Linked DNA regions of Homo sapiens: all the other regions are reported to be linked to region 7. Evidence: microRNA targets listed by miRTarBase, many of them from high-throughput screens and not tested one by one. Region 7 holds a microRNA gene; each other region holds the end of a gene's coding sequence.
The links. The annotated mature microRNA hsa-miR-3681-3p reads ACACAGUGCUUCAUCCACUACU and lies in region 7 at 1,875-1,896, opposite strand. An mRNA with a match to its seed (bases 2 to 7 or 8) in the 3' UTR can be bound and repressed. Matches are read on the target gene's strand: a 7mer-m8 pairs with bases 2 to 8, a 7mer-A1 pairs with bases 2 to 7 and ends in A, and an 8mer does both.

Region 1: miRTarBase lists LRATD2 as a target of hsa-miR-3681-3p. Seed matches in the 3' UTR shown: 7mer-A1 at 424-430.
Region 2: the mRNA of SEC16A is a reported target of hsa-miR-3681-3p. Seed matches in the 3' UTR shown: 7mer-m8 at 3,381-3,387.
Region 3: the mRNA of KIN is a reported target of hsa-miR-3681-3p. Seed matches in the 3' UTR shown: 7mer-m8 at 1,456-1,462.
Region 4: the mRNA of DBR1 is a reported target of hsa-miR-3681-3p. Seed matches in the 3' UTR shown: 7mer-m8 at 3,226-3,232.
Region 5: miRTarBase lists TMTC3 as a target of hsa-miR-3681-3p. Seed matches in the 3' UTR shown: 7mer-A1 at 2,129-2,135.
Region 6: the mRNA of CCNK is a reported target of hsa-miR-3681-3p. Seed matches in the 3' UTR shown: 7mer-A1 at 2,592-2,598 and 7mer-m8 at 1,764-1,770.

What each region holds. Positions count from the first base shown.
Region 1 is chr8:126,553,049-126,557,115 of GRCh38, forward strand. LRATD2 (LRAT domain containing 2) reads right to left here. Exons shown (of 2, transcript NM_174911.5): 2 at 1-4,067. The coding sequence ends at 3,409. Among named protein-coding and RNA genes, the nearest start is that of LRATD2, 3.4 kb to the right of the region's middle. RefSeq lists a silencer at 3,375-3,494 and an enhancer at 3,705-3,854.
Region 2 is chr9:136,438,242-136,442,308 of GRCh38, forward strand. SEC16A (SEC16 homolog A, endoplasmic reticulum export factor) reads right to left here. Exons shown (of 32, transcript NM_014866.2): 32 at 1,864-3,582. The coding sequence ends at 3,514. It overlaps INPP5E (inositol polyphosphate-5-phosphatase E), which reads right to left and starts at 1,604. Exons shown (of 10, transcript NM_019892.6): 1 at 367-1,604. The coding sequence starts at 1,178. RefSeq lists enhancers at 1-441, 383-492, 442-1,076, 1,077-1,710 and silencers at 783-1,272, 1,333-1,512, 1,563-1,762.
Region 3 is chr10:7,752,444-7,756,505 of GRCh38, reverse strand. It overlaps KIN (Kin17 DNA and RNA binding protein), which reads left to right. Exons shown (of 13, transcript NM_012311.4): 13 at 364-4,062. The coding sequence ends at 426. Among named protein-coding and RNA genes, the nearest start is that of KIN, 34 kb to the left of the region's middle.
Region 4 is chr3:138,158,346-138,162,412 of GRCh38, forward strand. DBR1 (debranching RNA lariats 1) reads right to left here. Exons shown (of 8, transcript NM_016216.4): 8 at 2,643-4,067. The coding sequence ends at 3,544. Among named protein-coding and RNA genes, the nearest start is that of DBR1, 15 kb to the right of the region's middle. RefSeq lists an enhancer at 2,104-2,605.
Region 5 is chr12:88,195,299-88,199,365 of GRCh38, forward strand. TMTC3 (transmembrane O-mannosyltransferase targeting cadherins 3) reads left to right here. Exons shown (of 14, transcript NM_181783.4): 14 at 1-4,067. The coding sequence ends at 351. Among named protein-coding and RNA genes, the nearest start is that of TMTC3, 55 kb to the left of the region's middle.
Region 6 is chr14:99,509,974-99,514,040 of GRCh38, reverse strand. It overlaps CCNK (cyclin K), which reads right to left. Exons shown (of 11, transcript NM_001099402.2): 11 at 1,601-3,884. The coding sequence ends at 3,259. CCDC85C (coiled-coil domain containing 85C) reads left to right here. Exons shown (of 6, transcript NM_001144995.2): 6 at 1-4,067. Among named protein-coding and RNA genes, the nearest start is that of CCNK, 31 kb to the right of the region's middle. RefSeq lists enhancers at 735-1,735, 1,736-2,235, 2,236-2,737.
Region 7 is chr2:12,197,003-12,201,069 of GRCh38, reverse strand. It overlaps MIR3681 (microRNA 3681), which reads right to left and starts at 1,940; the gene lies at 1,869-1,940. All of the region lies in intron 3 of MIR3681HG (MIR3681 host gene), which reads right to left.

The DNA of each region.
Region 1 (4,067 bases), not on the chromosome of region 7:
TTTTGCTTCCAAAAATATGTTTCCATGTGGTCGTGGTGTTGTCCAGTGCTATTAGGGCCAAAGCACCAAAGACATGAGAAGTTTAACCATCGACTTGTCATTTTTCATAAAAACTAAACATTTCCTTATAGGTCTGGAGTAAAATCTTCTAGGCATTTTAGTGCTAAAAGTCACTTTAAATTAAATGTGAAATAAAAGCTACAAAAAGTATGAGTTCTTTCAATACAAAAAGTTGTGTAGCTGAAGTTGTGGGCTCCTTTGACATACATAAGCAGTTTCAATAAAATATTTGCTCAGGTAAGAAAATAGAAATTTGTCTGCTTTCATTTAGCATACGTTCCAGTCGATGTCCTGCTTATCCCTGCCAGAACTTCTGAAGAACATTAGAATCGATATTTCTTTCCTTCAAAGAGCATCCGTAATTCACAGTACAAAACAGTTCTACAGTCTTATTCCTAAGGAGAAACAAAAATTATTAAATATGTTTATTTTTTCTAAAGTGTCAAATGTAGCCACTGCCAGGGCATTAAAAACTCACTTATCCACAACACTGCCGTCTTCAGGAAAGAACCAAGAGTTGATTCATTCCCCTTTCCTGGAGCTGTTACTAGTTGGTTGTTGCTTTAAGTGTAATAACCCTAAGAAAATTCCCAATAAAAATCACTGTTCTTAAGTGTCACATATTTCACACCTCTGGTACCCTGTAGAAACGCTTGTATTACATGGGAAAGCAGCATCTGAAAAGATCTATTTCCTATTCTAGTTCATTTCCAAGCCCTGTTATTGAAAACCTCTTCTCTAGAAGAGAGAGTCACTGCTCTCTCTTAACACAGTCGCTGCTATACTTCAGCGTGACTGACCATACATCATTTTCCATTCTGGGACAGAGGAAGAAGACGGGTGGGGGAGTTGATCTGGCTAGCCCAGAGCTGGACAGTGCCATTCTATTCTTCCCTCCCACTTGTCTACACGGTGGTTATTACTACTTGCTCTGCTGCCCAGGCTGGAGTGCAGTGGTGCGATCTCGGCTCACTGCAACCTCTGCTTCCCAGCTTCAAGCAATTCTTCTGCCTCAGGCTCCCAAGTAGCAGGCATTACAGGCGCCTGCCACCACGCCCAGCTAATTTTCTGTATTTGTGGTAGAGACAGGGTTTCGCCATGTTGGCCAGGCTGGTCTCGAACTCCTAACTTCAGGTGATCTACCTGCCTCAGCCTCCCAAAGTGCTGGGATTACAGGCATGAGCCACTGTGCCCGGCCTACCTTCTATTTTCACTACTGTGTTAAGCATGAAAGAAAATCCAACTGGGTTAGATACAGCAGGTTCTCCTAAATGTCTTAACCCATGTTTATCTTGTTCTGCTATTCCATGAGCAAAGAGAATAAACACAAAGCTGTGAGAGTATTAAATATGGACACTAGATTTACATTTCCAACAAGAAATTCATCTCCCTCCAAAGTCCCAGACCAGGGCTAGAATGTGGTTCATTTTTAACAATCAAAGTGGCAAGATCTGTTTGGTGATCACTGTAAAAACAGGAAACATAGCTAATGCCCTTTCATGTTGAGGTGCTACAAAGGTCCAAGCTTTTAAAGACTATGGCCTCAACGTCCATGTGTGAAACAAGTGTATTAGAAAATTCTTTAAGTCTTGTTGCCTTAACTTAGAGATCTCCAGGCAACAGGCCTGACGATAGCCATGGCTGTACCACTTAACTATGATTCTATTCCAACTGTTCAGAATCATATCACAAAATGACTTGTACACAGTAGTTTACAACGACTCCCAAGAGAGGAAAAAAAAAAAAAGACGCCTCAAAATTCACTCAACTTTTGAGACAGCAATGGCAATAGGCAGCAGAGAAGCTATGCTGCAACTGAGGGCACATATCATTGAAGATGTCACAGGAGTTTAAGAGACAGGCTGGAAAAAATCTCATACTAAGCAAACAGTAGTATCTCATACCAAGCAAAACCAAGTAGTATCTGCTCAGCCTGCCGCTAACAGATCTCACAATCACCAACTGTGCTTTAGGACTGTCACCAAAGTCAGATTCGGTGCTAACCAGGTGGCATCTATGATCAACGTCGCCCCTCTTATTTAACAAAGGGCTCTGAAGGAGGTGTTCTCCAAGCAACAAGGAGACTGCTTCAGTACAAGACTTTGCACCTTGAATTCAATTGCATCAAGTGTGGATAGCAAAATAAGTATCTTACCATTGAAATATGTGTTCAGCCTAAGATTTTACCCACCAGCAGAACAAAAGTGAGGGTGAGAGGGATGGGCCAGTGAGGGGATGGGGGAGAAAAAAAAATCACAGGATTACCACCAAAGCCTTGTTTTAAAAGGGCTCCCTTCACTATTCAGGAAGGGAAGTGGAAGGAGAAATTAACCAATTCCTGCCACAGCAGCCCTTTTTGGCTGCTTCCACAATAGATACTTTATGGAGTGGCACAGCCAACCCTATCTGTGACCTGCCCTGCGGATAAACACAGCCAAGCAGGTTTAATTAGATCAAAGACACAAAGGGCTATTCCCTCCTTTCATAACAACGCAGCTGTAAGTGCCTACAACAGCAGGGGAGAAACAAAGGCAGCAGAACAGAACCTTAATTGAAACCTTCCCCTGGCTGGCCCTTGACAATGATTTACTTGTAACCTAGGAAGGGGCGGGTGGAGCAGGAGGTAGCAGGAGCCTCAGCTAAGAGCCAGCTCCAGAAGGCTAATTACTTGGGGGTTGTGGAGGAGGGAGGTAGCAAAGTCTTTGTTTGTAGCCCGAGTTTGCTTAACTATTTGTTACACTTAATAGGAGGCTGCTGTGGTTTTGGTCTGCTGCTCCCGGACCTTGTCATGGATTCACCAGCCCTGCGCTCCAGGAATCCCATAAAATAAATCACCCCAGCCTCCTGGATCCCATACACAGCTCAGCTCCGCCAAAGCAGACAAGCAGCTTTCGTGCTGGTCCCGCAGTGGCGACTCCACAAACCCACTCTGGCCTTTCTACCAGGATTCTTCCAAGCCCAGGATAGGAAGCAACGGCAGGAATGGGTACTCCGAACTTTCCCCCAACCCCACGTGCTTAAGAATGGCCGATTATAAACCCAGATCTACCAAGGTTTAAGTGCCAGGCAAGTCCACAGTTTGCTCCACCGCGGAGAGGAAGACAGACAGGGGGCCAGAGGGAGACGCCCCCCACCCCCAACTAAAGTGTTTCCTACCTGCTCCCTCTGTCCCCTTCCTCCTCCCCCGTCCACAGCCGGCTGCGCATTTCACCAACTCTTTTCCAAAGGGCCCAGGAATCCCAGATGGGGCCCAGACAGTGGCAAAAGAGGGAGGAAGAGAGGGAGAAAGGGAGCAGCGGCTGCTACTGCAAACAGTTCCCCTTCGCAGCTCTGCGCTCAGCTCGCCCATCAGTGTGCCACTGCCTCTCCGTCCTCCTCCTCGGAGCTGGGCGCAGGGGGGCGCCCGGGAGGCGGCGTAGTCCGCGCCACGTTGCTGTCGCCCTCCTCCGGCTCCGCCGGGTGCAGGTGCGTGGCGAGCTCCTGCAGCACGGCCGCGCGCCCGATCTGGTCGTTGCGTCGCTTCTCCATGATCAGGTCCTCTAGACTCTGGAACTCGAGCGTGTGGCTGCGCTGCGCCGACAGCTGAATCTGCAGCCGGTAGGGCTGCTTGCCGATGCGCAGCTCGCCGCCGATCTTGAACTCGCGCTTGCCGTAGCGGCACCAGGCGGCGAAACTCTCCGAGTTGCGCCAGCTCAGCTCGCGCTCCTTGGCACCCACGTGCGCCAGCGCGTTGCGCACCACGGCGCTGGAGCTTAGCGGCTTGTAGCGGTACAGATCGTTGACCACGCGGCCGCGACGGCCCTGGCTGGCGTCAGTCAGGAAGCTGTTAATCACCTCCAGCCGGTGCAGGTGCACCACCTGGAAGTTACCCACATATACGGCCCAGTGCGGGTACTGAGCCTGCGACACGAACTCCACCAGATCGCCCGGCTTGCACTTGTTGAGCAGGTTCTCGGGCGTGTAGGTACTCAGCGCCGCCGAGCCCGGCGCGAAGCTCTTCTGGTAGA
Region 2 (4,067 bases), not on the chromosome of region 7:
TCCAGCCTGGGCGACAGAGAGAGTAACAAACAAAAACAACCAAAGGGGCGGATCGTATACATTGACGACATTTCCCAAGACTAAACAAGAAAAAGCGCCAGATACGTAATTGTATGCAGGATGCCATCCTGTCTACCTTAACACAACGTCACGCCCACGAATGGTTCTGAAACGCACAGGAAAAGTTCTGGGAAGGGCGCTGCTGTGGGGTGGGGCTGGGAGATGGGGTGGCTGCGGGAGACCCGCTTCGTTCTTTCCGGTTAGGCATCTTAAACGCTGCTGATGGGAACGGTCTCACGAGGTTCCAGCAGCCTGAACACTACAACGAAGGCGGCGCGGGCGCTGCACCCGCCAGGCCCTCCCTACCTGCTGCGGACGTCCTTGCTGCGGATGGGCGCCAGGAGGCTGAAGGAGGATTTGGCCGAGCGAAGGGAACAGTCGTCGCAGGCCAGGGGGCTCCGCGGCCGGCCGGGGCCCAGGCTGCTGTGGGCCCGCACCAGGAGCGGCTGCGCGCGGAGCTTGTAGTCTGCAAGATCCGAGTCGACCTTGTTTGCTGTCCTCAGGGAGTCGGAGGCGATGTCCAGGCTCAGGGCAGGCGGTGGGCGCGGGGGCAGCAGGCTGGGCAGCCTGGGCGAGCTCCCCGCCACGGCGGCGTCTCTGTGCGGGAGGTTCGGGGAGCTGCTGGCCACCCCAGAGAGAGGGTTACCCCCCGAGGACGGGCTCCCTCTCTCACTGCTCAGGACCCCGCGGGACTTGGGGATTTCCTGCAAGGAGGTGCTCAGGCAGGGCGGGGAGCAGCTGTGGGCGGGGGCCCCGGGGCCCTCGCTCTGCACTGAGCCCCTGGAGGGACTGGTCCCATTCCGGGCTTCCAGGTCCTCCTGGCTGCCTCGAAAACGCCTCCTCCTCCAGCCCTTGTCGTCCAGGGACAGGGCTCGCTCCAGTCGAGGCCTGGCGGGGGGCCGCGGGGCGATGGGTGCTGCTCGGGCTGGCGGGTCCTCGCCGCTGGGCGTGGCCGGAGTGCTGCAGGCAAGCGCGGGGCTCTCGGAGCCCGGAGCATCGGGTGGGGACCCCGCGCGCTGGGCCGGCGGAGCGCCGGGAAGCTGTCCTTGGAGCGTCCTCCCTTCCGGCGGCTGCGGGGCCGGCTCGGAGGGCCGCAGATTCTCCGCCTTGGACGGCATGGACGGTCTCTCCCGGGGCAGGCCTCGGCGCGAGGCCGCAGGCAGCGCGAGGGGTCACGGGTGCCGGGTCCGGGGTCGCCGGCGCAGCGAGGAGCAGAAACGCCGCTGCGGCTCCCGCTTGGGCCGGGGATGGTCGCGGAGGGGCGGGGGCGGCTGCCGCATGGCCCGGGCCCCGAGTCCCGCCAGCCCCTCGGGGCTCCCAGACGCCGTTCCCAGGGCGGTCCGCAGGCAAGGCCTGGGGGAACAGGCGGCTGGGCGCCTGTCGCGGGGGAGGTTCGACCCCGACGGGGACGCCGCTCGGGGAGAGGGGTGGGAAGCGGGCACCCCTGGCTGGGCTCGCAGACTCCGAAGTCGACCCGGTACTCGCGGAGGCCCGGCCGCCCAGAAGCGGAGTCAGCCCGGCCGGGACCCAGCAACCGCCGCCGCGGGGCCGCGCCCGGTCCCCGCCCCGCGCCCCGGCCCCGCCCACAGCGGCCCCTGGCGGCCGGAGGACTGCGCCGCACCGGACCCGGACGGGTCTCCCACGCCCCTCCCAACCCGGCAGCCCCGCAGTCCGGCAGGTCCCAGCGAGGCAGGTGCAGGTCCCCGGAGAGGACCTGGGTGCGGTCCAGGACAGCGCCGAGGCCTGCGGACACCTGCACTCACTCGCTTCCAGCAAACCAAAGGGAACCACAGGTGAAGGTGCTTGAAGGAGCGCAAAATATTTTATTCAACAATTTGCAATGTAACAATTCTCATTTAGGAAAAATAGCCGCTCCCGCCTGGAGGAAGCTTCTTGAATCAAAAGTCGTGGCAGTCGACCCCAGAACAGCGGGCAGAGCCGACCGGAAGAGGTCCCAGGATTCACACGAGCTGACCGAGGGACAGAGAGGGCTGCCCCGTCACAGGGACTGGCCTTTCTCCAAGTGACAAGGACAAATGGATCCAGCGGGACACGCCTGTGGAACATTTTGGAAAACATCCTGGGTGGTCTGGGCTAAATGATCAAGTGAAACAGAAAGCCAGGAAGGATCTGTGCTAATTCCACATTCTACAATTTCTACACTTAAATTTAAAACACCAAACAGTTTGTATTCCTCCAGCAGAACCTACAGAAATTATCTACTGATTTTTATTAGTATTTAAATCTTTTCTTCAGTCTCTTTAGACTTGACAAGAATACGAAGAGTTTCAGAACAGTCAGAGAAGCCTTAAAGCTTTGCATCAGTGAGAGGAGGCCCGTCTCTGAGTTGAACAGGGTTGAGTCCACCAGGAGCTACTCAAAGTCTCAGTGTGGCAAAACTCGGGGCAGAAATACTAAGTTCCAGAGCTGCTGTCAAGAAACTGTGTTAAGATACTCTCCCCAAGTGCTACCAACCTCTGAACCAACGTCCCCCAGGGGAGAAAGTGGGTCATGTGGATTGTACCACGAAAAGTGCTCACGGAAAGTGCAGCCTTTTAGAGAAGTGCATCCAGCTTCCTTAACAGTGAGTCTAACCGTGCTCCTACACACGAAATGAAGCCCAAATCAAACATCACACGGTCAGTTTTCAACCTGGATGACCACCCTGAGCCATCATGTCAGACAGCCGGCTCTCTGGGGCTCCTTCCCAGTGACTGGGCCACACGGTGGGCAGTCCCCAGCGCTTTGGGTACACAAAATCACCCATGGTCCTCATCAGGCCACAGAAAGTAAAGTGAGGCTGGAAGCGTCTTTGCAACAGGAAAGAAATTCACTGCAGTAACTAAGGCCTCTCTCAAAAACCGTGAACTAATGCCGAAGGAACCCCACGGCTCCTCGGAGGCGCTGATTGAGAACACAGCGCCCTCCACTCATTCAGCCAGGTTCAAACACGGCGAGGGCCCAGATGGTGCAGAGCAGGGGTTGGGGTCTGCCTCAGTCACCCTCTCTTTGCTCCCAGCACCTTAAAGGAAGCGCGGGACTCACTGGGCAGTGACTCACAGCTGGGCTTGGAGAGGCCCTGGTTACTACCGACCATGTGGCTCTCCTGTGGCAGAGACAGCTCCGGCTTCAATGAATGAACATTCTTAAATGACCAGGAATACTATATCCTTAAATCATCCTAAATGACTAAGAAAGTCACATCATTCTTTTCGGCAAACAATTCTGAGTCAAAGATTCAGTCTTTCCATCCAGAATCTGAAAGGATGGTGGAATTAATTTTCAAAATAATTCATTACGATGGGCGGTGAGGAGGGAGGCACAGTGTGCGACCAGCTCTGAGTCACTGCTGTGTCTCCCTGGGGGCGGGACGGAGATCGCGGAGGTCGGTCGGGTTCTTCGGGGAGAACAGCAGCGTCAGGGCTCCAAGTGCAAGTTCACAGCAGGGCAAGCCTAGTTCAGCACCAGGTGCTTCCTCTGGCCAATCCTCCCTAGCCTTGAGCTCCCGGAGGTGGCGCAGGCCTGGAATGAAATCAACAGCATGACCTCTGCATGCCTGCCCCCAGGGTGAGCAGTGCTCGGCTGCAGCGTGGCAGGGGCTGGTCCACATAATGAACCACACGGGCCATTGGCGCTGACAAGCTGAAGGCTTCGTTTTTGTTTCCAAAAGCCTCTGGAAACCGACAAGTCAGTGCCAAGTCCTGGGCTCCCTTGAAAGCACTGTATCCTTAACCATCAATGTTTACTGTGAGGGTGGCCAGGAGGTGCCGTGGTTTCATCAGGGCCATGAGACCTGGAGCTGCTCTGCAGAGCCAGCCTGGCTGTCCAGAGTCCAGGGACAAGTGGTGGCCAGGCCTGGCCTACTGCATGGGACGCGGGGACCTCAGTTGCAGACAGCTGGCCAATGCAGGCATCCACTCTTGCTCCCTCGCAAAGCCTCATGGAGGGGAAAGCCAAGGAATTTTTGTAAAGGCACTAACCACATGGTAAAGGGAGCAGGACAATAC
Region 3 (4,062 bases), not on the chromosome of region 7:
TGGACCGTCACTTCTGTTTGCTTTCATGGGCTGGAGCTCCATGCATGGCCACAGCTAACCACAAGGGAGCCAGGAAACTGGCTATTTATCCAGGAAGCAGAGGAGATACTGAACAGCTTGCAGGTCTCTGCCACAATGTCTATTGATAACGTATGTCAGATGTCACAGAAGAAAATATGGTAGTTCTTAATGAGAATGCCATAGATTATTCTTAAAATTCATAGATGTATACAAATGTTAACAATCTTAATGGTATTTTAGGGATGCGGAAAAGGCAAATTTGTATCCATAAGTATGGTGTCATTTTTTTGTCTTTTAGGAATATGTGTTTTTAACCTTATTTTAAATTATTTTAATTTGTAGGGCCCTTTAAAAGGACGCAGAGTTGAAGGAATTCAATATGAAGACATTTCTAAACTTGCCTGAGTTTGAAAATTTGTTAACAATACATTAAAATCTTAAAGCATCAAATTGGTGTTCGCCAAGGCATTATGAGACTCTACTGTGTTAGGGTATATTCTTTTGTATAAAACAAACAGGTTTTTGAAAATATTACTGTATAGTTGTTCAGCTAAACTTTGAGAAGAATTTAATTATGTCTCATGAGGTATCAAACTATGTAATTTTGTCCTTGTTATTTTTGTTTCCTTTGTAATTTACTTGATGAGTTTATATCTTCATTAAAGAATGTTATTATAAAGTGTTTTATCTATGACAATTTAGAATCATGTAATTGGAGGAAATCCTTCATACACTCTATATTTTCAGTAGTAGAGTAGTAAAGTTGAACTCTAAGTGTGACTAAATTTTAAATGTCAAACTATAAATATAGAAGCAGCTTTATTGTGGTAATAATTCATATACCATACAGTTCACTCATTTAAAATATACATACAATTCAGTGGTTTTTAGTATTTTTGCAGAATTGTGCAGCCATCACCACTGTCTGATTTTAAAACACTTTCATACCCCAAAATGAAACCCTTTAATAGTCAATCGCTATTTTTCCCCTCTGCCCTAGCCCTAGACAGCCACTAATGTACTTTCTGTCTCTATGGATTTGCCCTTTCTGGACATTTCTTATAAATGGAATCATATAATATGTGATCTTTTATGACTGGCTTCTTACACTTAGCATCATGTTTTCAAGGTTTATCCATGCAGTAGCATGTAGGCGTGCTTCATTTGTTTTTATGGCTGCTTAATATTCCACTGTATGGATGTACCGTATTTTGTTTGTCCATTCATCAGCTGATAAACATTTAGATTGTTTCTACTTTTTGGCTATTGTGAATAATGCTGCCATGATCACCCATTTACAGGATTTTATGTGAACAGAAGCTTTCGCTTCTGCCAAACTCTTCCAGAGCAGCTATACCATTTTACAGTCCTACCAGCAATGTTGAACTATAGTTTTATTTGTTTTTAATTTTTTTACTTTTAGAGACATGGTCTCACTGTGTTGCCCAGGCTGCTGTCAAACTCCTGGGCTCAAGTGATCCTCCTGCCTCAGCCTCCCAAAGTGCTAGGATTGCAGGTGTGAGCCACAGCACCCTGCCTAACCATACAGTTTGAAATAAGTAGGGCAGTGTATTATTAGGGAATGCAAAAGACAGGAAACCCACATTTGCCTGTGCCAAAGGAAAAACGAAGGGATATTTGTAGTGCACATGACTGAAAGGAGCAGACGCTAGCTTCCAGGGCAGCGGGACCGGGTGTGAACAGCCTTCCCTGGGCTTCCGCTCTGTCTCTGGCTCCTGTGCTGGCTCTCTACATTTACATTCTTGAGCACTCTAGGTTTACATCTTACCCTTCAGCAGCACCGGGAAGAGAGAGATGATCTATCTTTTCTTTTTCTTTTTTTTTTTTTTTCTGACACAGAGTCTCACTCTGTCACCCAGGCTGATTGCAGTAGTGCAATCTCGGCTCACTGCAACCTCCACCTCCCGGGTTCAAGCCATTCTCCTGCCTCAGCCTCCTGAGTAGCTGGGACTACAGGCATGCGCCACCACGCCCAGCTAATTTTTGTAATTTTAGAAGAGATGAGGTTTCACCATGTTGGCCAGGATGGTCTCGATCTCTTGACCTTATGATCTGCCCGCCTCAGCCTCCCAAAGTGCTGGGATTACAGGCATGAGCCACTACGCCTCTTTTTTTTTGTTCTGTTTTTTGAGATAGGGTCTTGCTCTGTCATCCAGCCTGGAGTGCAGTGGCACAATCATGGCTCACTGCAGCCTCGTCCTCCTGGGCTTAGGTCATTGATTCTCCCACCTCAGCCTCCCGAGTAGCTGGGACTACAGGCATGCACTACCATGCCTGGCTAATTTTTTTGATTTTTAGTAGAGATGAGGTCTTGCTATGTTGCCCAGGCTGGTCTCAAACTCTTGAGCTCAAGCAATCCTCCTGCCTCGGCCTTCTAAAATGTTGTGATTACAGGTGTGAGCTACCACGCCTTGCCTGAGTTGATCTTCTACAAGAGTTCAAACAAAAAACAGACCATACCAGGATGATCACTTCAAACATGAGGATGGGTATAAGCTGACGTCAGACACAGGTATGGTGCCAAACCCTGGGATCTCTCTCTTTAACTGAGAGTCAGGGAGGGCTGATTGCTTCTATTCTCAGAAGATGGGAGAACGTATGCTGTTAGCAGAAATGTAAGAGGCAGTAAAGAAATACTAATAGGATGATGGCAGAAGCTTTACAGAAAATGTTCCTCAGGGATGAATTAAGGTTTTTCCAAAGTAACCTGACAGCACATTATGGAAAGCAACTGGGTTTTGGGTGTGGGCAGTCTTTAGATCAAATTCTGGCAGTTCTGTTCATTGGCTTTGTAATATTAGAATGTTAATGTTCTTGAATTGCAATGTTTTTAATGTATAAATTGTCAAAATGTTTTTCAGCAGGGTTGATGGGAGACCTACAGAAAATACATATAAATCATCAGACATGAAGTCCAGCACATAGTAGGTATTGAATAAATGGCAGTGAGTGGTCATGTCCAGAAATGAAGCCAAGAAGTTGAGCCTGGACTACTAAGAATCTGGTCTGAAGAATTTCAAAAAGGAGAATGGTTCTCCCTGATAACAAATAGTGATGAGTAAAACCAGACAAATTACATATGCCTCCCCCAAGTATGTACGTTTGGAATCAACTTGGTGGTTTTCTTCAGAGAAAAAATGTTTCATGTCTGCCTCCCACATTTAATTCTCCAACGTCTTTCTGAAATTATTTCAGAATGAAATGAGGCAGCATACTTGAGGTTAAATTCAATAAAAAATATCTGAAGCATAAAAATACGATTATAGACTTCACAGTAGTTTTTTCCCTCTGAGTCTGTAGAACTTGATAGAGTTTATGCTAAGCAAAATGACTGCAGATAACTAACAACAGGTCTCATATTAGACTTTGATTTTTGAAGTATCATAAGCTATTTTTCTTTATTTCAAACATAGACTTTACTTTTTAGAGCAGTCTCTGTGGGTTTTGACAAATGTATAATGACATGCATCTGCCACTGTAGTATCACACAGAACAGTTTCACTGCCCTAGAAGTTTCCTGTGTTCTGTCTGTTCCCTGTCTCCCCCCAAATCCCTGCTGACCGCTGATCTTTTTACTGTCTCCCTAGTTTTGTCTCCATCGAAGGTCATATAGTTGGAGTCACACAGGGTGTAGCTTTTTCAGATTGGCTTCTTTCACCTGGTAGAACATATGCATGTAAGGTTCCTCCATGTTGTTTTGGTTAGGTTTTTGTGGCTCGATAGCGCACTTCATTTTAGCACTGCATATTCTATTGTCTGAATGCACCACAGTTTATGCACTCACCTACTGAAGGATATCTTGGTTGCTTACAAGGTTTGGAAATTATGAGTAAAGCTGCTACAAACATCTGTGCGCAGGTTTTTTGTGGATAGACGTTTTCAACTTATTTACGTAACGACCAAAGAGCACAATTGCTGGATCATATGCCAGGAGTCTTCTGAGAAACTACCAACCTGTCTTCCAGAGTGACTGTACCATTTTGTATTCAAACGAGCAGTGAATGAGAGTTCCTGCTGCTC
Region 4 (4,067 bases), not on the chromosome of region 7:
ACCTCCTAGTCTCAAGCAATCCTCCCTTCTCAGCTGCTCAAGTATCTGGGACCACAGGCATGTGAAACCACACCCAGCTAATTTTTTTTTATTAATTTGTAGAGACGAGGTCTCACTTCAGCCCAGGCTGGTCTCGAACTCCTGAGCTCAAGCAATCCTCTTGTCTCAGCCTCTCAAAATGTTGGGATTACAGGCATGAGCCATTGTGCCTGGTCATAGCTTTAAATACTTTATGTAAATAATGAGAATAAAAATAAGTGGGCCGGGCTGGGCGTGGTGGCTCAGGCCTGTAATCCCAGCACTTTGAGAGGCCAAAGCGGGTGGATCGTTTGAAGCCAGGAGTTTTGAGACCAGCCTGGCCAACATGATGAAACCCTATTTCTACTAAAAATTCAAAAATTAGCTGGTCATGGTGGCGGACACCTGTAGTTCCAGCTATTCAGGAGGCTGAGGCAGGAGAATCGCTTGAAGCCAGGGGGCAGAGGTTGAAGTGAACTGAGATCGCACCACTGCACTCCAGCCTGGGGGACAGAGCGAGACTCTGTCTCAAAAATAAATAAATAAGGGCGGGGCGCAGTGGCTCATGCCTGTAATCCCAGCACTTTGGAAGGCCGAGGCAGGCGGATCACGAGGTCAGGAGATCGAGACCATCCTGGCTAACACGGTGAAACCCCGTCTCTACTAAAAGTACAAAAAAATTAGCCGGGCATGGTGGTGGGTGCCTGTAGTTCCAGCTACTCGGGAGGCTGAGGCAGGAGAATGGCGTGAACCCGGGAGGCGGAGCTTGCAGTGAGCTGAGATCACGCCACTGCACTCCAGCCTGGGCAACAGAGCAAAACTCCATCTCAAAAAAAATAAAAATAAAATAAATAAATAAATAAATAAAGCAAGCCGGGACCGTGGCTCACGCTTGTAATCCCAGCACTTTGAGAGGCCGAGGTGGGCGGATCACGAGGTCAAGAGATTGAGACCATCCTGGCCAACATGGTGAAACCCTGTCTCTACTAAAAATACACAAATTAGCCGGGTGTGGTGGCATGGGCCTGTAGTCCCAGCTACTTGGGAGGCTGAGGCAGGAGAATCGCTTGAACTCAGGAGGCGGAGGTTGCAGTGAGCCGAGATCATGCCACTGCACTCCAGCCTGAGTGACAGAATGAGACTATCTCAAATAAATAAATTAATTAAATTAAATAAGTGGGCCAGGCGAGGTGGTTCATGGCTGTGGTCCCAGCACTTTGGGAGGCCAAGGCAGGTGGATCACCTGAAGCCAGGAGTTCGAGACCAGCCTGGCCAACATGGCAAAACCCTATTTCAACTAAAAATACAAAAATTAGGCCGGGTGTGGTGGCTCAAGCCTTTAATCCCAGCACTTTGGGAGGCCGAGGTGGGCGGATCACCTCAGGTCAGGAGTTCGAGACCAGCCTGACCAACATGGAGAAACCACATCTCTACTAAAAATACAAAAAATTAGCCAGACGTGGTGGCACATGCCTGTAATCCCACCTACTCGGGAGGCTAAGGCAGGAGAATTGCTTGAACCCGGGAGGCGGAAGTTGTGGTGAGCTGAGATGATGCCATTGCACTCCAGCCTGGGCAACAAGAGCAAAACTCTGCCTGAAAAAAAAAAAAATTAGCTGGACATGGTGGCAGGCGCCTGTAGTCCCAGCTACTTGGGAGGCTGAGGCATGAGATTCACCTTGAAATACCAGAATTGCCTTGAACCTGGGAGGTGGAGGTTGCAGTAATGAGCCAAGATTGTGCCACTGCACTCCCACCTGGGTGACAGAGTGAGACTTTGTCTCAAAAAAAAAAAAAAAAAAAAAAAAAAGTAAAATGAGTGAATTATTCAACTCAAAAAAGAAAGTAAACCAAAAAATGGAAGGAAATAAAAATAAAATCCCCCAAATCCTAGACCGTTATTAAGTCAAATGTTGACAAGGTAGAAGCCAAGTGCTACATTATTATTCTCCTAGATTAACTCCTGGATTTAGACTGCCATGGGATGATGAGATCCTGGAACAATCTTGGATTCCACGACTTCTGATATGAAGTACGGAGTGACAATCTCTTCAGGTGGCCCAGGTATTTTAACCAGAGATAGCACAGAGGTGTAGTTTTTCTATATGGATCTTCAAAAATACTTTAATTTAGCAATCCATCACGCAGCATGAGGGGCAGTTATTTGTGCAGCTTGATCCTTGCTAGTAATTAAAACTATGGGGTGAACTATGCCAAAAATGACCTACATAGTTACTATAGTTACATGAAAATTAAAGCTAAAGTTAAAACACAATATGCTGGCCGGGCACAGTGGCTCACGCCTGTAATCCCAGCACTTTGGGAGGCCGAGGCGGGCAGATCACGAGGTCAGGAGATAGAGACCATCCTGGCTAACACGGTGAAACCCCGTCTCTACTAAACAAAATACAAACAATTAGCCAGGCATGGTTGCGGGAGCCTGTAGTCCCAGCTACTCAGGAGGCTGAGGCAGGAGAATGGCGTGAACCCAGGAGGCGGAGCTTGTAGTGAGCCGATATCTCCCCACTGCACTCCTGAACGACAGAGTGAGATTGCATCTCAAAAAAAAAAAACAAAAAAAACTCAATATGCAAAAGTCAGCAGGGTTATACTAATCTCAGCAAATTAAGATTGTACGTTTACCAATGTTTAGTATTCAGAGTAGTTTATTTCCTGAAATCTTATATACCATCTTCAATTTCAATTTTTATTTGACAGATATTAAAAGCTGATCAGGAAAAATATTTATAATAAATGAAAAGAAAGCATACATCATAATATATACAATGACTTGATTTTATAAAACAAAATATAATATAGCCATATTGTATACATCAAAATGTTTACAGTGATAACAAGTCCTTGGAGGCAAAAATCCTTGTCTTACTCATCTTTATGGTCCCATATTATAGCAGAGTGCTTGGCACAGAGTAGATGTTAAGTAAGTGTTTATTGTAAAAATGGAAGTGAATAATGTATGTCTTCAAAAAAAAAGATACCCAGTCAAGTAAATATATGAAACTTTAATATGTTTGCATCTGAAACATACAAAAGCCTAAAGATAAAGTCAATATCTAACTAAAATTCTCTAATGTATCTTCATTATTATAAAGTTAAGTCTTTAGTCAAAAATTCAGCTCTAAAAATACAGTCTCAAAAAATCACATATCTACATATAATACTAAGACAAGTAAATTGTCGGCCAGGCACAGTGGCTCACGCCTGTAATCCCAGCACTTTAGAAGGCCAAGACAGGTGGATCGCCTGAGGTCAGGAGTTGGAGACCAGCCTGGCCAACACGGTGAAACCCTGTCATTACTAAAAATGCAAAAATTAGCCGGGTGTGGTGGCGGGCACCTGTAGTCCCACCTACTTGGGAGGCTGAGGCAGGAGAATTGCTTGAACCTGGGAGGCGGAGGTTGCGGTGAGCCGAGATCACGCCATTGCACTCCAGTCTAGGTGACAAGAGTGAAACTCCATCTCAAAAAAACAAAACAAACACAAAAACAAAACAAGTAAATCATCTTAAGCTGCATCGTCATCATCATCATCCACTGCAGCGTAAATGGCTTGATTCCTCCTCTTAATTTTCTTTCTTTGTTCAGGTTCATGTTCATCACTCAGCCTCTTCAATGGCACCTTGGTTAAGTCCTCTCCATTCCCTGACTCCACAGTCCCACCAGGTTTCCCCTCTCTATCAATTGTGGAATCCACCGTATCATCAGAAGATACAATCATAGAGCCTGGCAAGATCCTGACATCAGAGAAACTTGCAGAAAACTCAGAAGCTTGATCAGAAGGTTCTACCGATGGTGTATTCATGCCACTATGTGCACTTACAATACTATCTTCATCTTCTTCTTCATCTAACATTATTTCATCTGGATTAATAGAAGACAGAGCAGATGTGTCTGTATTATATTCACTCTGGTCTTCTCCAGAGTCATTACTCTCCACATCATCCTGTTCTTCATATTCACCACACACATGATGTTCTTCCTTGGACTTCTGAAGCCTAACATTGATGTCTATGATGCCAAGTTGGGCAC
Region 5 (4,067 bases), not on the chromosome of region 7:
GCATTAGCACCACATGAAGAATATATTCAGCGCCATTTGAATATAGTCAGGGATAAGATTTCCTCATCTAGTTTTATAGAGCCAATATTCCCAACCAGTAAGATTTCAAGTGTGGAAGGAAAGAAAATTCCAACTGAAAGTGTAAAAGAAATTAGAGGTGAATCCAGACAAACACAAATAGTAAAAACAAGTGATAATAAAAGTCAGTCTAAATCCAACAAACAATTAGGAAAAAATGGAGACGAAGAGACACCCCACAAAACAACAAAAGACATCAAAGAAATTGAGAAGAAAAGAGTTGCTGCTTTAAAAAGACTAGAAGAGATTGAACGTATTTTAAATGGTGAATAACATTAATATTTATCGTGACAATGGTATCAAAGAACATCAATCCGTATCATGTGATTGCTTTTACTGGGAGCTTTGAAAAAAAGTTCAAGGGTTCCTAATGGTCAATCATGAGCTGCCTTGAAGTAGGATCAAAATAAGATTTTCATTAAAGACCTGTATTATCCCAGGATGTATATTATGTATCGCTGTTTTCAGAGTGTGGGTGAATATAGCAGAAATATTACAGCGGAAGTGACAAATTTACAACTTTTATTATAGAAAGAAGGTGTTTCTGGCAATGTAATCTTTACTGCTCTCAATTAAAAATAATTTTGAGGCCTGAATGATAATCCCTTGAGGACAAATCCAACATGTGCTGGTTTATTCTGTTAATTCCCATTTATTTGCCTACTTCATTTTTCTTGCACCTCTTAGAATCTAACTATGAATTGAAAACACTTAAGTAATTCTGTTTAATCAAGGGATTTACACTACAAAAGAATGCTGGCTTTTTTTATGTTGTATTCCTTAGTTGAGTTTTAGAAGGAATGCTTGATGAAACATTTTAAAATAAGTCATGACATGTTAGCTTGAGAATGTATTTTCATAATTGTATACTTGTTTTTAACTTTAAATGTAATTTTTAATCAGGTAAAGTTTGACACATGTATAGCTACATACACACATTTTTAATGGTGCTCATATATACTGTATTTTTTGTTGTTTAGTTTTACTTATTGAGAGTGTCACAACATGAATCACATAATCATGATTTTTTTTTTTTACTTTTACTCCCCAAATTATTCATGTTTCTTAGATCGTAGTCATTGAGAAGTCCCAATAACTCTAAACTTTTGAGTTATAACGTAGTAAACTTCTCTTTCATCTTTGTGTTAGCTCTGTAGTCTTAACCTGGATTTTAATTTTTTTGTTTCCAAAGTCACAATTGAATTATTCTTAGATACCTTAAGCCACTGAATTCAGTTCTGTTTGACTGAAAGCAAAACAACGTGACAGTTTATTTTCAAACACTAACTTCTTGATATTTTGTTATGGTATATCTTTTTATTAAATATTTATTTTGACTAAGCTTTCATAAAATATTTGAAGCTATTTTAATCATCAAGTATGGAAAACAAATTACTATTGCATTTTCCTATATATGCATATATTATGGATTAACCAGAATTGTATCATTTTTGGCCTAATGTCTGGATATAAAAGATAATTAGCCTACTATAGTATTAATAAATTTTTCAGTTGGTTTGGGCAAATTTAAACCTGAAAAATAGGTTAAAAAGTAGTTACAAATTAAACTTACTAATTTATACCTGATTTTTTTTCTTGAATTAAAGTACATTTTAAATGAGCTTTATAATACCTTAAAAAGTTGGTTCTAATTTAAAATATGAAAGCTCTGGCTATCATCCTGGGATAGTAATTTCTAATTATATAGTATTTCAAAACTATATATTTTTTAGTTCCTTTGAGATAACTAATTTCTAATTATATATGTTTCAAAAACCATATCCTGTATTTTTTTTAAGAATTGTTTTATAAATAGGTCATAAGATACAAGGTCTGCATTAGAAGACCCACTCTTACTAGGTTCCCTAAGGATCTGCCATAGATTTTTTTTTTTTTTTTTTTTTTTTTAGGTAGTTTAAAGCAAGCACTGATACCAGTGGGAGTTGGTCTTGATCTAGGAGATTCTGTTAAGCATCCAAAAACAATGCCTAATTTCAGTTCTTAGGTTATGGCTTGTGACTCCAGATAAAAGATGGAGAATACCTCATGTACTGTGACTTGAAAATGAATTCTTAAAATTCTTAGGCTCTCTCCATGTATCTTTCTTAAGGAAAAGTTTCTGAGTGTGATCTCTCTTTTGCCATAGTATCAAGTGGAGGGTAGTTCAGAAAAGTTAATAGGAAATCTTTTGTGACAGCAGACTATAATAGAAGTTTGAGTAATATTTTAATAAATTTATATAATTCAAATGATAAAAATGTATCAATGTTATCCAATGATTTTTATTAAAAAATTACCTTATTATTAGAACTGTGCCTATTACATAAAAAGTGCTCATGTATTTGAATTTTAAATAATTTATTTAAATCAAGACCACCATAAGTCATTAATAATTTAATAATTGTTTTAAATCAGTGGTTTTCAACCCTCACTTCATATTAGAATCATCTGAGGACTTTTAATATGGAATCCACCTCATAACAATTAAGTCTAAATTTCTGGAAGATGGAGCCATGCTTGTTTTTCCAAAAGCTCTTTGAGTGATTCTAATTTGTAGTCAGAGTTGAAGACCACTGCTCTAAATTAGTGCAGGAAAATGCTTTTATTTCTCCCATGTTAACTTTTAAAACTAGTAATGTACCCAGTTAAGTTTTGATGGTTTAAATTCCACTAAAGAACATATTCTTCTAATAACTAGCATTTATTACATGAAATTTAAGAGTTTAAGTTCCATCAAACTAGCCCTTGTGTAAGATTATTATTTCTTCTCTATAACTTCAAAATAGATATTTCATTCAAACTGTTCAGGTGAGAAAACATAATGGATTTTTTTTTTTTTCCTCTGGAGCTGCCTGTTCAGTGAGATGGAGGAGGTGGGCACATTTAAGGTCAGTTCACTAACCTATGGTTCAGAGTTCTGATCATATGGAAGTTTGGAAAAGAGAGCTTATCACAGGTTTGTATGCTGGTGAATGGATAGTTTTAATTCTCACTGTCTCAAAAGAGAATCAGCTCTCCAGCAGTTCTAGAAAAGCTTTGACAATCCCCAAGGGGCAGTGTTACCTTACTCCTTCACTGCTTCTTAGAAGGTAGAATTAAGTTTCTGGAATTGCACCTACATGTTTTCTTATTAACATTCAGAATTGGGAATATTAATTTTTCCAGTGAGTAGTTTTCTGAAATTGGTAACTTGGAGAGTAAAATAACGTATTTTGCTTTTCAATTTTGTGTTTGTTTACTTTTATGTAAAAATTTGATATGTGAATTACACAGTTCTAATAAAACCTCATGCCTTTTCATTACATCTAATTTGAACTCTCAACTTCATGTTACAGAATGCTTTAAAGATGCTTTAATGAAAAGTATTAAGAAAATATATAGATTTGTATGTCAGTTTATACTTCAGAAATCCATATATTTGTCATATTTATTTTTTTAGAAACCTCCTAATTGGATAACTAGATGGTATTTAAAATGAATGCCCAAAAATATCTTGTACCTTTGTCCAAAAGTTTATCTGTTGGAAGCCGCCAGCCATTCATGTAGAGAGTTTATAAGAAAATAATTTAAAATTGTATGCATTTTATATTACTATGGTATCTGTGTACCATATTTCTAAGTATTCATTATTAAATTGGTACTTCTTAAAACCATAACCTGGCTTGCCTTTTAGTGTTAAAAAAATACAACATTGTATATAGAGATTTCTTTTATGAAGAAGAGCTGACGTAATTTATTAGCAGTGATCTGAGAAAGACATTAAATAAGTTTCTGAGAGTGATACATTTTCAAACATGAGGAGTGACAACCACCAAATTAAGAAAAGGAAACAACTCAGACTTGGAATTTTATACGAATTTCATTTCTATATGTGCCTGGTATTGCCTCTGGCATAACTTAGAGGAAATTGTTCTACCTATATGTCCTCAGTTTCTTCATCTACAAGTTGGGAAAAACATTTTCCTCTTAAAATTGTGAAGAGGATTTAT
Region 6 (4,067 bases), not on the chromosome of region 7:
GAGTTGCCTCCCCACTCTGAGCCCGTGTCCTCAGTAGTAAAATGGGCAGCATAAGGCCCTCCTCACAGGATTCTGGCATCAAGTGAGATCTTCAGTGTAAATGACCATGTATAAACTGTAAAGTGCAATAGAAAACTGTGTGTGTGAGGAAAGTAAGGCCTAGAGGGGGTGATGTGTGGCACATGACAGGGATTTTGATCCCACAGCTGCAGCACGGGGACAGGCCGCTTCCCCACATCCGCTCATGCCACTGTAAGCAGCCCTAGCTCTTGGGTCCAGGACCTCACCAGGTCCTCGTCAGACTCCTGTGCTCTTCCAGGGGCTGCTCAGCCCCACCTGAAGAGCCCAGAGAGGCTGTCTTCCTACCCAGCAGGTCTCATGCAGGCCCAGGGCTGGGGATGCAGGCAAGAGGAGGGAGATGGCCGCCCTGTCCCTCTCCCTAGCTGGCGGCTCTATTCTGAGCAGTTCTTGCTGCCCGTTTGCTCTCAGGGGAAAGGCTCACGCCCCCCATCTTAGCCCCAGGGGGGTAAGTGGGTGCTGGTGATGGGATGGTGTGGCGCTCCTGCCGTGGGTGTTGCCAGGAGGCTCTTTGGGAAGGAGTGTCGCCCGGTCAGGTGGTGCGCTCCCGGTCACTAGGGGTGTACACGTGAAGTTGGGTGAACACCTGCTGCTCATGGTACCCAGTGATTCTTGCCCGAGTGGGCAGCTGAGCAGAGGCCCCTCTGGGTCTTGCAGTCCAAAGAACCGCAGAGTAGCCCAAGGGCTGTGGGTCCATTTTGAGTGGCAGCCAAGTCTGGGAGCCCGTGTGCATCATGTTTGGGTCAGGTTGGCGTGGCCACCACTGAAATAAGCAATAAGTACGGGCTCCTGGTACCTGCGGATCTCCTGCAAACAGGCCCAGAGAACAGCCTTGAAGCCACCTTTCCCCTCAAGGGGACTGACCCTGTCTTTAATGCTGCAGTGGCATCCAGGGATCAGTGGAACATTGCTTTGAGAACCCTCCTGCTGTTACGGAGGCAGCACAAAGCTGGTGACCCCTGAGCCAACACGGCACTGGGATGGCTTTCTAGGACAGAACCCTGTCGGCGACTGTCACATCTCAAACTAATAGCTGATTTTAAAAGCCAGCAGCAGCGACGCCATGTACCTGAGTACAGGTGGCAGTTGCAGAGCCGTGGGCTGTAGAAGGTCAGATGGGGCTTCCCACAGGGGAAATCTGGGCATGCTGTAGCTCAGGGTGACTCCCAGCTCCGTCACTAGCAGGGCGACCCCCTTCCTTCTGGAGCCTTAGCTCTGAAAGCCCCCAGTGGGGGTGCCCTTTCAGATGCCCCCTTTCCATTTCAAAGGCTCTGACTCTTGATCTTGAAGCCGGACGCGGCACTGGCACTCGGCTTCAGTTTCCACTGTGACAGATGGAGGTCTCCTTTCGCCCCAGCCCAGGTGGCCAAGCCCATCCTGGCCTCAGAACATGCTGAGCACATTTTGTAGGGTGGCACCTTTTTATCCAAGTTACTAGCTACACATCAGTGTTTAAAGAGAAAAAAGTGACCTTTCATTTTTTTTTTCTTGAAACTTGAGGAAACAAGATACATACTACTGATTTTTTTTTTTTCTTAAAACTAAATGCATGACTGCAGAGCGGTAGAGGTGTATATTTTTCATACTGTGGGGCAAAGTATTTGTGCTGCTTTTTGGAGATGGACTGGAACGTCTGGTTTCTGTCCCCGGGCCCGGCAGCTACGTCTATTTTCTGTAGAAGGTGCCACAGTGAGACCTGGAGCCACCCCTTCCTGCCCTGGCGCCGTTTAGAGCTGGGAGCCCGTGGACTCCCGGCCTGTTTCTACCTTCTATTCAACCACTCTGACGTGGGGAGACAAGAAGAAATAGAACTTTTTGATAGTGTGGTAAAAACATTGATTTGAACTATTTTAGTAAAAGGAGTAACAAACAAGATTGTGATAGTGTCTACTTTGAGCTAGATAAATAAAGGCCTCTTTGTGAGCCTCCTGGCTGGGTGCTCAGTGCTTGTTTCTGTCGTGGGTGGCAGGGTCAGCAGGCAGAGACAGGGCCAAGGCCCCTCAAGCACCGCAGATGGGGGCTCAGTCGGGGCCCCTTCCACAGACAGAGCCGTGGCCCCTCAAGGTGGACAGTGAGGCCGCTGCTCCTCCAGCTGCCTCTGTCTCATCACAGGCCAGAAGTGGAAAGGGTTTCAAATCCAAGCCCCCGGGTTCCTGTGTGCGTTCTACGCAGCAAGGCTTCAAAGTTTCAAACTGGTTTGGAACTCAACCAGGTCCTCCAAAGGAAACCAAGGCAGGCACAGGATGGGGGCAGGCTGGCTTGGCAGGCAGCTGTGCGGATCCACCCAGAGTGCCTTGGGAGGCAGTGGGGTTGGCTGTGGCTGCTGTGAGCTGCAGCCAGGCCTCTCCCGCGTCCCCAGGGTCTGGAAGGAGGGCCTCTGCACATTTTATAAGCCACAGACTGCGAAGGCCTGGAGCCCCACCTTCCACCCATAACAAAGAAAGGGATAGTTTCAGAACTGCTTTTATTTGGATAACTGACTGAAGGAGTCTCATTTGTAACCAAGATGGAATTCACAGTATGTTGTTACATTCACACTTAAAAAATATATCTCTATGTACAGGAATTTGCAAAGAGATGTAAACATACATTAATTTCCAAGTACATTTCTCCCCTTCTCCCTGGAGGAAAAAAAAAAAGCCATCCAATGAGGCAACCCCTTCAAAATAATTTTAATACAAAGGATGCAAACATCTATAAATGAAAAATGTGGTTCTTCTGCCCCTTCTGGGTGTCATGGGAGAGAATGTCACCGAATGAAAATGACAACAGCTTGGCTTCAGATGGAATTGGACTATTTAAAATTGAGTTTCCAGGAAAAATAGGCACTGATTTCTAGAAGGAAATTAACTCCTTACCGAAGCTATTTATTGAGCCAATATGGCTGGTTAACGTCCTCACTAGTATAAAGTAACCCAGTGCAGGACTCTCAGACATTAGCTGAACCAAGTGTACACAGTCAGACTGCAAGGGCACTGATGAGGCTACTCTGAAAGCTGGTTGTCCCCGTCCTCTAGGTGTGAGGACCACTCTGATTTTATCCCAGGGGCCCGGTCCATTCTTCCCATACTGCAACTGTCGTGCATTATACAAGGTACCCTGCTGCTTACCCACTTCAACTACTCTGCAAGTCGATTAGAAAATCTTGTTAAAAAAACAAAGAGGGAAAAAAGGCTCACGTTATCTCATCCAGGCTGCCCGCCCCAGCCCCCCAACTGGAGGCATGCCGGGTGGGGGAATGGGCGGGGGCACAGGAGGCTGTCCTCCAGGGGGGACGGCAGGAGGTGGGTAGCTGGCTGGCGGCAGGCCCAACCCTGGAGGAGGATGAGGGGGGACTGCGTGGGTAGGCGGGAGGCGTGGGGGTGGGGGTGGGAAGTTGGGGTTGTAGGTGGGTGGGGGTGGGGGGTAGCCAGGAGTAGGGGGTGGGATGGCAGGTGGGGGGAAGGAGGCTGGGGGAGGAGGCACAGGTGGCGGGGGCGGGTTGGGCGGGTAGACATGGGGGTGGTAGGGCAGGTGTGCAGGTGGGCCGTAGGCGGGGGGCAGGGCACCGTAGGAGGGTCCCTCGGTCTTCATCATGGACTGCAGGCTCTGGTAGCCCTCTCCAGACATGTAGGAGCTGGTGGTGGACATCCCGGTCATGTAGCTGGAGGGGGGTGGGGGCGGGGGCCGGTGTGGCAGCGGCGGTGGCTGGTGCACAGGGGCCGGGTGGGCCGGAGGGGGAATCTGGACTTTGGGGAGGTCAGTGGCATCCACAGGGCCCGGCGGCTCAGCCTCACCTAAGGCAGCAGCGAGGGGAGGCTTCCGGTCTGCAGGAGAGAGACGCATCAGTGCCCGGCCTCCGCCAGCAATGGTTGCTTTTTCAGTGCCTCCTGGCCCTTCAGGGCCATCTTTACAGAGGAGCAGGGAGCAGCTGCCCGCCTCCTCTGTGGCCCAACGCATGGGCCCATGCCCCATGTCCTGATGCCACCAGATGTCTCCCCACCATCTGT
Region 7 (4,067 bases):
AATTCTCTTGTGTTTTTTTTTTTTTTTTTCTTACAATAAATTTTCTAATCTGAACATGCTGAAAATTTGCCTTTATATTTCCTGGATGGAAATAGTGCACAATCCTTATGCCTCTTTGTGTAACCTCTAGACCCTTCTTGTCTTATCCACTATGAACCAAAGAGCTATTTCTGGGACCCTTTACTCATCCTTCTCTGTTCTCTCTGCTTGGAATTCCATTCCAGGTTCAACACAAATATATCTTTGACATGAAGAGATACCTAATCTTTGCCTTGCCCATTTTAAACCAATAGAATTAAAAATAAATTAATAAAATAAGTTATTCTATCATCAGATATATGTATATCTAGTCTCATAAAATTGTATGTGTGTTTTACAATATTTAGTCCCTGTTTTACTAAAAATATTTGTGGACCCAGCTTGCCTTCCTCATGTCACTAAAAATATATATATTGAGTACCCACTATTCCCCTAAAATATTTACCAAGCACCTTCTAAGAGGCCTTTTAGTAGATATCCAGTAAATATTTTTAAATGAATGAATGTTTAGCTACACCATCCAATACGGTAGCCACTAGCCACATTTAACTACTCAAATTTAAATTAACTGAAATCATATACAATAAAAAATTCATCTTGTACCCCCATTTCAAGTGCTCAGTAGTCACAAATGGCTAGCGACTACAGTATCAGAAAGTGCTGTTATGGGACCCTTCATCACAGCAGAAAGCTCTACTGGGCAGTTCTGAATTCAATACATGAATGAATAAATGCCTGAAAGAATGAATGAACAATCCATCAGGAGGCTCCCAAGCCACCCCCTCTGCAAACTCTCTGACTTCAAGGATGGATTAAACTACATAATATTAACATTTCACCTAATTTAGAGATCAGCTTCCACTTAGGGAAGTGTCACAGCTTGGATTATTTAAAAGGAGCTCAGGAAAGCAGTGAGCACATCCTGCAGGCATGGCTGCTGCTGTTCCACAGACCCATCAGCCACATTATGACAGGAGCGCTTTCCAGCTCCAATTTGTCTAATTCTCATCTGTTATATTAACAAAGAATGCCTGGCCAGAACATGTCACTCAGCTCCACAAAGAGCTATTTCCGTCTTCTGTCTTCTTCCAGAACTGCAAAGATTGATTTTAGGAAGATAATCATTTTTGTGTATTTCTGCACACAGGCTGGCTGCAGCTGTTCCCAAATGCAACATCAATACATGTTTTATGAGTCAGTTTTTTGTGGGGTTTTTTTGGTTTTTGTTTTTTTTTTTTTTTTTTTTTTTTTTGGTAACGTGTGAAGCTAATCATGTTGAGTACGACATAAAAAGCATTTGCCTTGAAATCTCAAGCGCTGTGTCCCATCACTCAATCTTGCTGTGAGCACAGATTTCCTTGAAATGTTTCTGGTCGGGACTGAATGTGTTGAATCTCAATTTTGTATTTCAGCTCCATTCTACGATACAGCAGGGTGAGAACGTGAGTAGCCTTCACAGTTGGGCTTCTGTCTTAGCCTGAGCCATTGAGACAAAAAAACCTAAGACTTTATTTGGGATGTGCAAACCCAGGAAAGAGAGGAAGAAGTGAAGTAAAGGCAAAGAAATCTGGGATGCCAGGTGAAGTGATGCATCACCTTGCTGCTCCTTCCCCACAAGCCTTGAAGTTACAACTGGCAGCCCTAGGCTTGTCCAGGAAAATTACAACGAATATCTCTGTCTTGGGGTAGCACATGGGAGAAACACAGGAGGGGGAATAACCCAGCTAGCTCCTTCCTATTTCCTGTTTCCATTGATCCATTTGCCACTTGGACAGTTAACACCCTCAGAATTCCAGGTTGCACTGGACTCCTGAACAGTAGCTCATGACACTTCCAGTAGTGGATGAAGCACTGTGTGCACAGTTGGCCCTGCACAGAGTGCATCATCCACTACTGGAAGTAGACAAGTGTCTCCTTGAAGATGGGCTTGGTGTGCAGGGCTTGTGAGCCAGGCAGGCTGGGGACTTCCAGCCATCTCGTGGACGTCCCATCAGAGGTTGTTGGTAAGCAGGTCTGGGAGGCAGGCTGTGCTTTAGAGGGAAGGAGACAGTCAGATAGTGAAGGGAACCCAAAGGGGCACAGGATTTCTTCATCCAGTACAGCTTCTCTGCTCGCATGCTTACAGGATTCATCTTCCGTGGCAGGAATTGTTATTTTTAAAAGGAAAATTATGTTCCTCTCCAGGCTCTTTAAAGTATGCTATCCTGATAGAAAAGGCCTTACAGGTAAGCAAATCCTAGTCCTCCAATGTTGCATGTATAAAAATTAATATTAAATAATTGGTGTATGATAGACTAGAGATGTTAAATACCTCGCTTACTAGAAGTAAGTGCCCCCTCCAGCCAACCAGGAAAAGGAGCTCAAATGTTCTAATGCTTCTGTTGCCTCTCTGTACAACAGATAAATCATGTTTATGCAGTGATTGGCGAAGGAAATGAGCATGCAGCAGTGACGCCTGATGCTGAAAGGTGTCACTGGGGTTGCTCCTAAGGAGTCTGAGAGCCTCCCAGGAGCTGGGGTCCACTCAAACCTGGAGGCTCTTCATGCAGCATGCTGAGAGCTCTAGATAATCTCCAGGTAGGTGAGGCCCAGGGAATGTGGGGAGAAGAAATAATGGAGAATCTCACTTTCTAGAACCTGGAGTCAGGTGCCTCAGATAACTCCGAGGGTCAGGAAGATGAAGCTCAGTGTGTGCAGGGAAAAGAGGCCTGCATTCAGATGGGGGAAGTGTAGGAGCATTGTGCATTGTGGGGACGGCACCAGGGGACCCCAAAAACTATAAGCTTCAGTAGTTTGAGGACAATTTAATGAAGGGCCAATGGTATCCATCATGTTAAAGAGGTAAGAGGAGCACTAAGGTTGTTTAACAGAACATGGATGTGATCACATTTGTTTTGTCATTCTAGTTGCTGTGTAGAAAATGGAACTGGAGAGGATTTTCTAGAAGGAAAGAAACAAGTTTACAGGGAGTTGCTATGGACCAAGTGCGGAGTAATAAGGGTCTTCATATTTGAGAAGCTCGTCTTACTCATCTGTAAAATCATATTAATATGTGCCTCAGAGTGAAATTAAAAAATTAATTATTCAATGTCTTTATAGTTCTCCATCCACAGTAGTTTTGTTGACCAGACTTAAGTTGGCGCCCATGATGTGCTCCTCCTGGAGTCATGCTGCTGTAGAACTCACACACTTGACTGTGGGTGGGACGTTCGACTTGCTTCTAACCAATGGAATACAGCGAAAGGAACAGATTTCACTTCCTTCACAATGTTGTATAAGATTGTAATGACTATCACACCGAAAAACTCTCTTTCCTCTTGGTTTTGAGAAAACAAGCTGTCATGTTGTGCACTGCCCTATGGACAGTTATGTGGCAAAAAATTGAGGACAACTGGCAAGAAACTGAGGCCCTCAGTTCAGCAGCCTGTAAGGATTTCAATGCTACTAGTAACCATCTAAGCCTATAAGTGTATCCTTCCCCAGTTGAGCCTCAGATGAGTACTCAGTTCTTACTGACACCTAGTTTGCAACCTTAAAAAGGGCCCAACTAACGCATGCCCAGACTCCTAATCCACAGAAACTCTGAGATAATAAATGTGTGTGGCTTCCAGCTTCCAGGTTTGTGGTAATACTGTCATGTAGCAGTAGATAGCAGTTTCCCCACAAACTTAGTTCCCTCACTTTGCACTACCTACCCTGTCACAGCACTGAAATGCTAAGTGTGAGCAATACTACTAAAACCATTCATTTCCTGCCTCTCTCTTTAAGTATACTGATATGGTTTGGCTGTATCCCCACCCAAATCTCATCTTGAATTGTAGCTCCCAAAATTCCCATGTGTCCTGGGAAGAACCCAGTGGGAGGTAATCAAATCCTGGGGGCAGGTCTTTTCTGTGCTGTTCTCAGGATAATGAATAAGCCTTATGAGATCTGATGTTCTTATAAAGCAAAGTTCCCCCCGTACAAGTTCTCTCTTTCCTGCCACCATGTAAGATGTGACTTGCTCCTCCTTCCCTCCACCATGATTG